Regions from separate parts of the Homo sapiens genome. Here regions 2 and 3 are each reported to be linked to region 1. Evidence: microRNA targets listed by miRTarBase, many of them from high-throughput screens and not tested one by one. Region 1 holds a microRNA gene; each other region holds the end of a gene's coding sequence.

What was found. Region 1 holds the annotated microRNA hsa-miR-193b-3p (AACUGGCCCUCAAAGUCCCGCU, at 2,119-2,140, shown strand). A microRNA usually pairs through its seed, bases 2 to 8, with sites in the 3' UTR of a target mRNA and lowers its output. Matches are read on the target gene's strand: a 7mer-m8 pairs with bases 2 to 8, a 7mer-A1 pairs with bases 2 to 7 and ends in A, and an 8mer does both.
Region 2: the mRNA of KRT19 is a reported target of hsa-miR-193b-3p. The part of its 3' UTR that is shown has no 7-base or 8-base seed match.
Region 3: the mRNA of IPO4 is a reported target of hsa-miR-193b-3p. The part of its 3' UTR that is shown has no 7-base or 8-base seed match.

The regions. Positions count from the first base shown.
Region 1 is chr16:14,301,899-14,306,046 of GRCh38, forward strand. MIR193B (microRNA 193b) reads left to right here and starts at 2,069; the gene lies at 2,069-2,151. All of the region lies in intron 1 of MIR193BHG (MIR193b-365a host gene), which reads left to right. RefSeq lists silencers at 127-616, 901-1,061, 967-1,206, 2,160-2,209.
Region 2 is chr17:41,520,489-41,524,488 of GRCh38, reverse strand. KRT19 (keratin 19) reads left to right here. Exons shown (of 6, transcript NM_002276.5): 4 at 1-110; 5 at 221-346; 6 at 492-872. The coding sequence ends at 746. Among named protein-coding and RNA genes, the nearest start is that of KRT15, 3.6 kb to the right of the region's middle. RefSeq lists an enhancer at 1,947-3,146.
Region 3 is chr14:24,177,150-24,181,149 of GRCh38, reverse strand. IPO4 (importin 4) reads left to right here. Exons shown (of 30, transcript NM_024658.4): 29 at 392-461; 30 at 578-931. The coding sequence ends at 708. It overlaps REC8 (REC8 meiotic recombination protein), which reads right to left. Exons shown (of 19, transcript NM_001048205.2): 8 at 3,928-4,000; 9 at 3,767-3,797; 10 at 3,609-3,685; 11 at 3,392-3,441; 12 at 2,928-3,059; 13 at 2,478-2,544; 14 at 2,234-2,373; 15 at 2,017-2,065; 16 at 1,687-1,753; 17 at 1,424-1,555; 18 at 1,244-1,350; 19 at 896-1,140. The coding sequence ends at 1,055. Among named protein-coding and RNA genes, the nearest start is that of REC8, 7.1 kb to the right of the region's middle.

The DNA of each region.
Region 1 (4,148 bases):
CCGGGCTCTGCCCCCCGCCCCCAGGGTCGAGGCTGACGTCGCCGCCGCATTTCTAGGAATGCCCCTATCCGCTGACTATATTTGGCGAGCGTTTCTAGGAAGGCGCCCCCCCACCCCGGCCCCCGCCCCCACCCCCACCCCCACCCCCACCCCCACCCCCACCCGGGCGGGCGCGCTAGGCTTCCAGGCTCTCGCCCTCTCTGCCTGGCCGGGGAGGAGCCGCCCCGCCGCCTGGGCCGCTGCCGCCGCCGCCTCCCCAGCGCGGCCAACCCCGGGCCGGCCCAGCCCCCGCCCCGGGCCGGCCATAGGGCGCTGGGGGGTTGGGGGGGGCGGGGGCGCGGCTTTGTGGCGGCAGCGGACCGTGGAGGCCGGGTGCAGCCCCGTCGGCTGCGCGCTCTCTGCAGAAAAGGATTTTCTACGCTCCCCGCCCATCACTTGGATCTCGTCTGGGGAGGGGCGGATTTTTTTTCTGGAAGTACCCTTCTTCTCCACGGTGGAGGATTTAAGGCTGGGCTCCAATCGAGGCGGAGGCTGCAGGGCCCGCGGGGCGCCCCCCGCCCGGCGCACGCCTGCCCGGAGCCCGGGAAGGCGCAGCCCTGGGTGGGGGGGCCCGTGCACCCCCGGAGGCGGCAGCGGCGGTGAGTGCTCCCCTTCTTCCCGCCTGGCACCTTCCGCCAGCCAAGGCAGGGATCGCGGCAGGTGGGTGCCCAAGCCCCCAGGGCCGAAGGGGTGTGGGGCGGCTGTCTGCGGGGTGGATGGGAACGGGAGAGGGGAGGTGGCGGCGGGGGAGCGCGCGGTTCTCTCGGGACTCGGCGCGAGACGCTTGTCTGGGCTGCGATTGCCGCCGCTGCCGCCACCCCGGCTCCCCCTCGGACCCCTCCCCCGCTCCCCAGAGGGGCGTGTGAAGCCGGGAGGTAGGAAGGGGGCGAGGCCGCCCCCAGCCTCCCTAGTGCCTGGGCTTGGAAATTGACGAGGCGGTGGAGCGTCCGCGTCCCCGCCCCCACCCCGGAAAGCCCGCTCGGGAAACTGACTCGCTGCGTGACCCCGATCTCAATGCCGCGCGCGGAGCAGGCCGGCCGCGCCCGCCGCTCCACGTGCGCCCGAGCCCCGCTGGCATGGGCGGCGGCGCCTGCGGGGGCCGGGCCCCGGGGATCCCGGACTAGCCGGGAACCACCGTCCCCAGAGAGTTACCGCCGCCCCCTAAAGTTGTCAGCTCCCTCCCCCCGAGAAGCAGGCAGCCCTGGCGCGTTGGCTTTAGCTTCTGCAGGACGGGGGCAAAAAAACTAGGTTCCGGGGTGCGGAGCGGGGTGTCTGTGCCCGAGACAACACCAAGTTAGGAAAAAGAAGTTAGAAAAAAAAAGAAAAAGGCATTTTGATTTGGGGGTGGGGGGAGTGGCGTTTCTGGTTTCTCTTTGCTTCCAATCCCCACCAAGCGGAGCGTTGGAATGCGCCGCTTATGTCCTCTGAGGACACATCCATATTTATAATTTATTTTTAGGAGAAGTTGTGAAAAAGGGAGGGGGGTTAAAATGAGGAGAAAAGGTGCGTGGGGGAGTGGCCTTTCCAGAACCTAGAGGCTAATTAAGCTATTAAAATGGAAATCATTTCCCCCAACTTGGGCGCGCAGCAAATTTGACTTTAATGAGAGACGATTAAGGACACAAATAACCAAACTTTATTTAGCTGGAGATGGGGTGGGGGGAACTGTACGAGGCACCTCGGACACCCGATTTATCCGCTGCTAAGGGACGTTTGGGGCACCCCTCGTGTTGTCCGGGAAGCTTTTAGGCCTGTTTGCTGGGCGAGATTGGTGATTGCTCCGGGAGGGAAGAGACACCCCGGGATCAAGCGATCCTCTTGCCCTCAGCCATGGTGTGGCAAATGTCCCCTCCTCCCACAGCGACCCCCTGGCATTTTGGTGAGATGAACCGCCGCCCTGAGGGAACACCCAGTAACGATTCCTTCAGTGATCCCGGTTCTCCAAACTCTTGCCTCAAAGGCGGCCTGCCCCGGTGCTGTCAGCCGTGAATGGGGACTCACTTCTTGGGAAAAGAGGCTTTTGGAGGCTGTGGTCTCAGAATCGGGGTTTTGAGGGCGAGATGAGTTTATGTTTTATCCAACTGGCCCTCAAAGTCCCGCTTTTGGGGTCATTCTGGACAGCGAGGGACTCAGGCCCCGGCAGTCTCGGGAGGGTGAGGGCAGAGAGCTACCACCCCCAGGGAGCGCGTCCAAAACCCGGCTGGCGGGGGGGCGGGGAAAGAGGGGGAGGTTTGCTACTTTCCATAAAACTAAAAGGTCCCTTCGAGGGCGGTATTCTTATAAGTGTGTGTTCTCAGTTTGCCGAACCTACTGTGTTTTCCAAGGGCTTCTCTCCTTGGGAGGCCGAAAAACGATACAAGGAGGAGAAAGTACATTCCCCCTGACCACCCCCACAGTGGTTTAAGGGACAGTATTGGATTGGAAAGGAATTAGTAGGATGTCAATTGTGGCAAAGTGTTTGAAGCCCCCAAATAAGGCGCTCCTGAAATGATGAATTGTAACGACATTAGATTTGTCTTTACGTTTGCTAAATTAGGAGAAACCAGCTGTTTGCTTCCACCTGGAATTGCAACATTTCTTTGCAACTCTTTGCTGTTGAAGGCGTTCTTTTTGTTCTGTTTTGTTTTGTTTGTTTGTTTGTTTGTTTTTTGGGGACAGAATCTCGCTCTGTCCAGGCTCTGACCAGGCTGGAGTGCAGTGGCGCGATCTTGGCTCACTGCAACCTCTGCTTCCCGGGTTCAGGCGATTCTCCTGCCTCAGCCTCCCGAGTAGCTGGGATTACAGGCGCCCGCCACCACGCCCGGCTAATTTTTTTGTATTTTTAGTAGAGACGGGGTTTCACCGTGTTAGCCAGGATGGTCTCGATCTCCTGACCTCGTGATCCGCCCACCTCAGCCTCCCAAAGTGCTGGGATTACAGGCATGAGCCACTGCACCCAGCCAGGCGTTTTATAGAAGGCTGGATAATACGTTCAGGGGAAGTCTCTAAAGCAAGGGTAGTGTGTATAAATCCCCGTCGCAGAACATTAACCTTCAGTTGTGTGTACACACACACACACACACACCCTATATAGTTGTAACCTATATAGACTTTCACACATCCTAAGTTATTTGCAAGTCTAGATTTAAATTAAGTCTACATAGCAGGGAATAGAAAAGTGAGCTGTACCTGGAAAAAACCTTTGAACACAGCGTTCTTGATACAAGATTTAGGATTTGAAAGACATGGCACATGTACACACAGATGACATTTGTGCTGCCTTGGCAAAAACAGTTCTTTACTTCCAGAGTTCTTTCTCTTTAGTATGGGACACGATGAAACAGCACAATTTTCAGGAGTCCACAATTCCAGCGAGGCGCGTGGATGGGAAATTGTCACGTTGTGAATTGTGTTTGTGCTTTGCTAAATCGCCACCCGGAGCTGACTGTCAAATCCTATTTGCTTTGCTAAATAAGGATATCTCATCAAATTAGCCTTTAATGATACTTCTACAAATAGGGTGTTTTACATGAATTAACGAGGCCGGAACACTGACTGTTTCTCCAAGATACTGAGCTATAATGGAGGCGACGAAGCCGAATGTTAAAATTACTGAATTGTTAAGTGTGCAAAATCAGACAGAATTTAGTGCTAAATGTGAAACAATTTCTGCTTTAATGGTGAGCATTCGCAACAGCACAAGCATTACTTATATTCAGCCGTCTGAAACTGTGCATGTAATTATGAATACATTTAACAAACTTTAACCCCCCTCTGAGTCTGGAAACAGTCTAGTATGGTGAAGAGATTATAAATCAGCATTTTGCAGTGAGAAGTCATCATTAATTCAGCAAAGAATCACAGCTTCTTTTCAGATCCTTCCCACCACCCTCCTACACACCCCCCTCAACCAATAAGGAAAAAAAAAATTCAGCATGGAACTGCTGGATACACTGAATATATTTTGGCTTTTCTCTTTTTGCCTCTGTGTGAGAAACTTCATTAAGCAGTTGCTGTTCCCTCCCCACCCCCGCTAACCCCCAAAGAAGTGTGGATTTAAGAAAAAAAAAAACAAAAAACAAGCAACTTTGAATTTTGTTCTTAGCAATCCCCAAGCCATAGCTGATCTC
Region 2 (4,000 bases), not on the chromosome of region 1:
ATTCCGCTCCGGGCACCGATCTCGCCAAGATCCTGAGTGACATGCGAAGCCAATATGAGGTCATGGCCGAGCAGAACCGGAAGGATGCTGAAGCCTGGTTCACCAGCCGGGTAGGTAGAGGGAAGCAGGCACCCTTTGGGGGTTAGGAAGGGGAGGGCTTTGTGTTCCCTACGCGAAGGTCTGACTCAATGCTTATTCCCTCTTCTTCCTCTCTCTGCAGACTGAAGAATTGAACCGGGAGGTCGCTGGCCACACGGAGCAGCTCCAGATGAGCAGGTCCGAGGTTACTGACCTGCGGCGCACCCTTCAGGGTCTTGAGATTGAGCTGCAGTCACAGCTGAGCATGGTATGTGTCCCCCCACCGCCGCCGCTTCCCTGTGCAATTCACACTTATACCCTTGCAGCCTAGGGCAGCCTGGCCGGTGGCTGTGCCCATGCCCTCTCCGGGAACCAGGCTCTGCTGAGTCACAACCCCCTCTCCCTATCCTCAGAAAGCTGCCTTGGAAGACACACTGGCAGAAACGGAGGCGCGCTTTGGAGCCCAGCTGGCGCATATCCAGGCGCTGATCAGCGGTATTGAAGCCCAGCTGGGCGATGTGCGAGCTGATAGTGAGCGGCAGAATCAGGAGTACCAGCGGCTCATGGACATCAAGTCGCGGCTGGAGCAGGAGATTGCCACCTACCGCAGCCTGCTCGAGGGACAGGAAGATCACTACAACAATTTGTCTGCCTCCAAGGTCCTCTGAGGCAGCAGGCTCTGGGGCTTCTGCTGTCCTTTGGAGGGTGTCTTCTGGGTAGAGGGATGGGAAGGAAGGGACCCTTACCCCCGGCTCTTCTCCTGACCTGCCAATAAAAATTTATGGTCCAAGGGAGGAAGGACGTTTGGTTTATTATTTCAGCCCATGGAGAGAATAGGTCGTTCGGTTTGTTATTTGAGCCCATGGAGAGATGGGTCCTGCCTTGGCCCTGTTTAGGTTTTATTTGAACCAAAGTTCACTCTGTCCCAGGAAAGGGAGGGGAGGGTACTCACATACTTTGCCTGTAATGGTAATTCCTGTTTACAGAAGTCTTCATTTATTTAACCCGTTCCTTAAAATAACCTCATGAAATAAGCATTGCTTCCATTTTACAAAAGTAAACTAAGGCTCAGAGAGGTGAAGTGTTTTTTTCTATATGTAACTGCTCTAATGCATGGCAAAGGTGGGATTTGAAATTGTTTTTGCTTCTAGATTTAGTTTTCTTTCTACTCTACTCCCCAGGGCGTTGAGGTATCTGTGTGAAATTAATGTTTATTGAACACCTACTATGTGCCATTGAATTAAAAACAGCCCTAAAAGGTAGTATGAGCTGCATGTTATAGATCAGGAAATAGGCTCAGAGAGGTTCAGTAACTTGTCCAAGGCCACACAGCAACTACATGGTAGAGCCAGGACTAGAACCTAAGTTGCCTGATTCTTAGCCCATGGTGCCAGCCCCTGCCAGGTGGTCTCCTGGAGTTGACGCCACTTGTGCCGGTCTTGCTGACATTCCAGTCTTGTGCCCTATGAAGGCTCAGGCCGGGGATCCCTAGGGGCAGTTCCTCCCGACACATTTCTCCACCTCACTGAAACTGGGGGTTTGGGGCCAGGCATCCCGCTTGGAGCAAGGCTGGGGAGGCTGTACCTGTCAGTGTGTGTTGTGTGTGTGCATGCACTAACACATTCACCCATTTTTGGGGCAGCCCTGCATAAGCCCTTTAACGCCCACCAGCCCATACCTGGGCCCAGAGCCCAGAATGGGACCCAGCAGTGACCCAGACCTCCCACAGAGACCCCAACCCTGGCTTGCCTGGGGCCTGCCCTGGGCCAGCAAAAGAACGAAGTCCCAGCTTCCTGGTACAACTCTGCCCTTGGGTAGGTATGGCCCTGCTCCTGTGGTTTACATCTCAGCTGCCAAGAACTGAGGCCAATTCAAGGTAAGGAAGAGGCCCCAAAAGAAGTCCCACTTCTTCCTGGTGGAGAGGTGAGGGCTGCAGGCCCAACCCTATGAGTGATGGGGGCAAGTGAGGGACACTAGTTCCACGCCCGCATGCTGCCAAATGTACTCAGCACCCTGCTAAGGAGGCTGGAGACCCCATCACGGCCATGGCAATCCCGAAGGAGGAGCTGTTTCAAGGTTGGTTATGAACATGTAACCCCAGAGCCCCGCTGCTGTAGCCTGGACTGGGACCCCCTTCTGCCCCCTCCCTAGCTGTCCTGTTCTGGCCTCCAGCACCCACAAACCACCACCCCCAACTTAACTTCTCAGGAAGCCTTGGAGCTGGAGGGAGAGGCCTGGCTGCACCCCCAGCTGGGACTGCCCAGAGGCGCTTGTCCCTGCCCATGAAAGCCTCCCTTGTCACAGCTGAAACCTTCCCTCTGCCTCAGGGGCCCCTGGAATGTGGCTGCGGGGCGGGGTCTGGGCCCACACAGGTGGGGCAGGTGACTGTCAGGTCTCAGGCCTGAGTGTCAGGAATGAAGCCTGCCTTTGTGTGTGCACAGTGCAGGGTGGGGCTGGACTGGGGACACTTTTCTGTCTCAGCCTGGAGACCTGGGATAGGAGGGAGAGGGGAGTGGGGAAGTTGAGGGGAGTGCCTTTACATCCTGCTGGTCATCGTGGCCACTTCAGTCTGTTGAGCATTTCCTGTGAGTCATCTTGCTCCAACTGAGAGTCAGGCTGAGCTGGAGTTATTTCCATTTTCCTGATTGGTAGACTAAGGCTCAGAGAGAGGAGGCGGCATTACCCAAAGCCGCACAGCTGGTAAATGGGAAAAGAGGGGTTTAAAGGTAAGTCTCTGGGCTCCAGGACACACCCCCTCTCCCTGGCATTTCCCTGGGGAACAGGAGAGGTGTGGGAGGGTTCTAAGGTTGTTGGAGACTTCATTCTCCTTGTGCCCTCAAATGCTCACTATGGCCCTGAGGGGAGTCTGTGTTAATGGCCTAAGTTTAAATCAGGAACCAGGCTCAGAGAGGCTGAGTCTCTTTCCACTGGGCTGCACTGCCTCATTCTAAGGAGAAAAGGCCAGCTCCACAGATGGCCCCATCTGGCTGCAGTGGGCAAAGGTCAGAAACTGGCACAGCATCCTGGGCAGGCTGCCTGGGGCAGGGCCCGGGGCTACAGCCTGGGCTGGGGCCAGACAGAGCTTTATCTTCGCAAGGCCATCCCACCTGGTGCTAATGAGGAGGCTCCGGGCCCCACCCAGATCTGGAGCTCACAGTAGCGGTTTGGACTGAAACCAGGGATTTGTGCGTGGGGCAGTGAGGGGGGCAGCTGCCGCCCCTGGCCTGGGCCTGAGAGTATAGAGAAAGCCACCTCGAGGGGCTGCTGGAGGAGAGTCAGGTGCAGAAGGGGATCTGGCTGGGGTCCAGCCCTTCCTCACCCTGGGGTGAAAGGCGAGTAATTGTTCTTGAGTTAATTGCTGGGGCCACAATGTCTGCAGAGGCTTTTAATGAGCTCTGGATGATCTGAGTTTGATTATTTTTCTTTCGGAGGAAAAGACAATACCCTCCCACCCATGAGACAATACCACACTGTCTGTGCCCAGCATTGGAGGCCAGGCTCACTGCGAAGATGGATGAGAAGGAACCCACCCCCAGCCTTGCTGGCTGGCAGTTCCCCTTGCCAGCCCAGCTCAGATGCAGGAATTTGGGGTCTGCAGGAAGGACTCTTTCCCTGTGCCCTGTTTGGTTGAGGGTGTGAGGACCTGTTTGAGTCCTGGCTTTGCCCCTTACCAGTGGTGCCACCTGGCACAAGTTGCTTCACCTCTCCAAGTTTCAATTTCATTCTTTCTGAATCTTGGGTGGGGGTCACCCTCTGTTGTGAGGATGAGAGGAGGTGATGGATGCAAAAGTGCTTTGTAAATCACAAAGTGCAGGGTAGAAGTAAAGGATTATGCTATTATAGCAAAATAAGAACCTAAGAACAACCTGCGTTGCCCCATAGGAGCTGGCTATGGAAGGTCGATGCCGTTGAGCCTAAGAAC
Region 3 (4,000 bases), not on the chromosome of region 1:
CATTTCAATCAGATCAGCTCTGCTCTCTGAAGAGATTTTGCCTGTACCAAGTAGCTAGGTTTGGAGTCATGTCAGAGTGTTTGTGTCACCCTTGTCTTATACCTTTAGAGACTGTTGTGTAGGTGAAGCTCCTGAGTGTCTGGGTTTCTTTAGGTCTTGAGGCTATGACTTTAATCATCTTGTCCCACATCCCCCATTCCCTCCAAAAAAAATCATTAGCACCAAGTTTCATTGGTTCTTCTCATGTTCATAGTTGTCTTGGATGCCTGTGAATCAGTACCAGGTGCAACCACCCCCCTGATAAGAGATTCTGCCACTCCTTGGTCCTGACCACCCTCCTAGACCTGGGGTCTGGGGCTGCTGCCCTGAGTCAGCCACTCTTTCCTCACAGGTTATAGATGTGGCTCCCGAGCTTCTGCGTATCTGCAGCCTCATTCTGGCTGACAACAAGATCCCACCAGGTGAGGGTAGGAGTCATAGGCAGGGGCTTGCGGGAGGCTGGGAGTGGCAGGGCTCAGAGAGCCTGGGGCAGCGAGGCTTTAGGAGCCCCGACCTTTCTCCCTCCCTCTCCACCCAGACACCAAGGCCGCACTGTTGCTGCTCCTGACGTTCCTGGCCAAACAGCACACCGACAGCTTTCAAGCAGCTCTGGGCTCACTGCCTGTTGACAAGGCTCAGGAGCTCCAGGCTGTACTGGGCCTCTCCTAGACTGCAGGCTGCAGCCAGTCCAGAGAGAATAGAGCCTGCCCAGGCCTTAAGACCACCTCTCAGCCCAGTTCAGTTCTGCCTTACCAAAGATTCTGAGACTCATACCCATTTGGAGCCAGCCCCACTTGCTGCCTTACAGGGCTGTCCCTGAGGCTGGATCTGTTACAAATGAGTCATGACATCATACTGTAATAAAAGCAGCTTGTTTTCTGCTTGAACAATAGCTCTGAGAGCAAGAAGGCTGGAAATGCACATTCAGAAATGAGGTAAGCAGGACCCAGTGAGGCACGACGTGGTTTACTAGAAGTGGCCGGTTTCCTGGCAGCTTTGTAAATGGACTCTAACCTCAGTGGAATCTGGGCCCCGGCTGGATCAGGAGGCGACCATATGGCTTTTCTTGTTTCACGTGAAGAATCTGTTGCGCTGAGAGCACTGGTCAAGAGGCGAGGAGAGGGCAGGTCGGGGGAGTCCCTGTACGGGCCTCTGGTCTCTGTGTCCCTGCCCCACATACACACACACACATGCATACACTCACCCAGGAGCAGGTAGAAGACCCGGGCAGCCATCCTGCGGGGGCTGAGAGGTGACACCAGGCTGCTGAAGTCGGGCTCCCTGTTAGCCTGCAGCTCCAGTGCCACTGCCCTATAGGGATCAAGAACCATTAGCAGAGGCTTCAGCCCGGGTCCACCCCATCAAGGTGCCACCTCCCTGGTACCTGTGCACTGCTTCCAGTGAGAGCAGCTCGAGCTCTGGGGGCAGCACCAAAGGCATCTCCATGGGCACCTCAGGGAGTTCAGGCACCACGGGCAATGCAGGAGCTTCTGGCGCCTCCACCTCAGGCCAGGCCCTAGGAGGACATGAGAGAGTAGGGAAGGTGGCAGCTGTGACAGTGACAAGGGGCATACCCATCCCAGCAGCTGTTTCCACCACCTGGCCAAGGGCTGTGGGCCCTGGCTCCCACGGAGCCTGGCCGCTTACCACCGTTCTTCTGGTGGGATGAGGCTGATGCGGGACTTCTCCTCTTCAGCTGCCTCTAGGGAGATCTCTGTTGGGGGAGGAAAGGCGCTAGTGGGTGTCTGCTTGGGTGGCAGTTAGGGCCTTGTGGCCACCTGGTGTAAGTAGATGGCAGAGCCGTGCGGTGACTTGTTAAAAGCACATAGGTGGGAGAGCTGAGGAGGACCAGTCCGTGCTTCCTTATGTCACACACACACGCCTTCACTCATAAAACAGCTTCAGCAGTTGGGATACTAGTTTCCTGGGACAGTGGTTAGGGTGTGGTCCCACTGCGCCTCTTCTCTAGGTGCTTACCTAAAGACACCATAAGGGGAACACTGGGCTCCAGGGCCTCCCTCGGGACCTGGGGATGGGAGAAGTAGAACTAAGACCCCAAGCATCTGGGACTTGGGCCTCAGAAGGCACAAGGCCAGTGAGCCTGTGCTGTTGGCTCTCATAGCAGGAGAGGGCAGCCAGCTGGTCAGGCAGACCCTGGCACTGGGGCGATGCAGTAAACAGGTGGTGCAGTTACCTCAATCTCACTTGGAACTTCAATCTTTCTCCTTTCCTCCTCAGCGGCTGCCTCCTCAGGCAGCTCTCGCCTGAGGGCTTTTGGGGGTGGCTGGGCACAATGGGTCCAGAGACCCAGTAGTTCAGGGGGTAGCCAGCCAGCTGTGGACAAGAGGGTAGTAGGCACGGGGTTTGAGGCGTGAGGAGCACCAGGAATGAGGAATTGGTTTTGAGGATACTTCGTGCCCAACCCCCACCATTCTTACAGAGAGTTGGGGTTCTGAACAACTCCGCAGGGCCTCTGATGGTCCTCTCGGGCGGCTGCACCATAGGCTGTGTAGTGGGGGAAGGTCAGAAGCCCCATTATAAAGCAGCCACTCCTCAGGGCCCCTTTGCCTCTTTGCAATGCACTGTTCTGGGGCTTCTGGACTTCCCCAGCTTTTGCGCTCATGACCCTGCCTGCCCTGCTCATTGCTAAAAGAAGGACTTTTTAACCTGGTGCCCATGGGTATGACAGGTGGGTCACTAAAGGAGCATGAAGAGTTGTATATGTGCAAACCCACATCGCCTGCATTTTCTGGAGAATGGAGGAGATTTTTCATCAAGTTCCCAATCCTCCCCCCACCCACCTGAGGAGTTTGGAAGGCTCAGCCTGCATGTGCCCCTGGTCATCCCTGCCTCCCTCCCTTCCCCGGCAAAGCCTGGGCTGCACTCACACATTCCCAGCAGTGGGCTCTGGTTTGCAGTTGTTCCTGGAATTTCTCCGGGGAGATCTGAGTCTCCTTGTCCCAGAACAGTAACCGGCGACGACGGCGGCGGCGAGGAGGTGGGGGGACTGGGGGCCTCCTCTGTTGAGTGGGGAGGGCAGGTAGGGGCAAGGCTGCCCATTACTCCTTTTCCTGTCATTCTGGTGGACTGCTAACAGGACCCCACACCCGCCCCTAGAGGAACCTGGAGAGGGCTTGTGCGGGGTCTCCATGCACTTGAGCAGCTCATACCTTGCATAAGGGTACCCATCTGGGAAGCGTAGGCCAGATACGATGGGGCGTAGAAAGGGGCATCTTTTATCATCTGCATTAAGGACCCCTGTAAGCTAGCAGTGGCCCTGGGCTTGGGGAGGCAGTCCTTGTGGGGGAGGGCAAAGAGGAGGAGGAGGAGGATTAGAAGGGAGGCTACTCACCTCTGGGCTGGGTGGGGCTGGCAGACGCAGCTCCTCCGGGGGGGTCACCTCTGCAACAACACCCAAGGGGCTCTGTCCCATAAGCCCCTTACCCCTTGCAGATGCCAGGGCAAGAAACTGCAGGGTCCTCCCTTTAGCAAGTTGGGATATAAAGCCCTTGTCTGCAGCAGTATCCAGGTACTCCCAGAAAAGCCCCTGGGGCATGGTGGGCACTCACCCATGAGTAGGGCCCCAGGTTCCCAGCCTGTCAGCCTCAGCTCCTCAGGACCCAGTGCCTCTCCTATTCCTTCCACCCTGAGGGGAAATGGGCAAGAGAAATGAGGAGACCCTTCCCAGCACTGACACCCTACCTGGTCTAGGAGTTCTTGCCCTTACTCTGCAGGAGCTGGAGGTGGGAGCCGCGGGACTGTGGAGAGAGAATCAGAGTTCAGAGGACAGAAAAAGAGAAATGGGAGCATTGCCCAGTCCCAGAATGCCCACGCCAGGGGTCTGACTATCCAGCTCCAGGCGGGCCCTACGCTGCCGGAGACACCTACTTTCTAACAAGATAGCTTCTTCTTCCTCTGCGATCAGCAGGTCCAGTTCTCGGCGGCTGACCTCTGGGAGCTC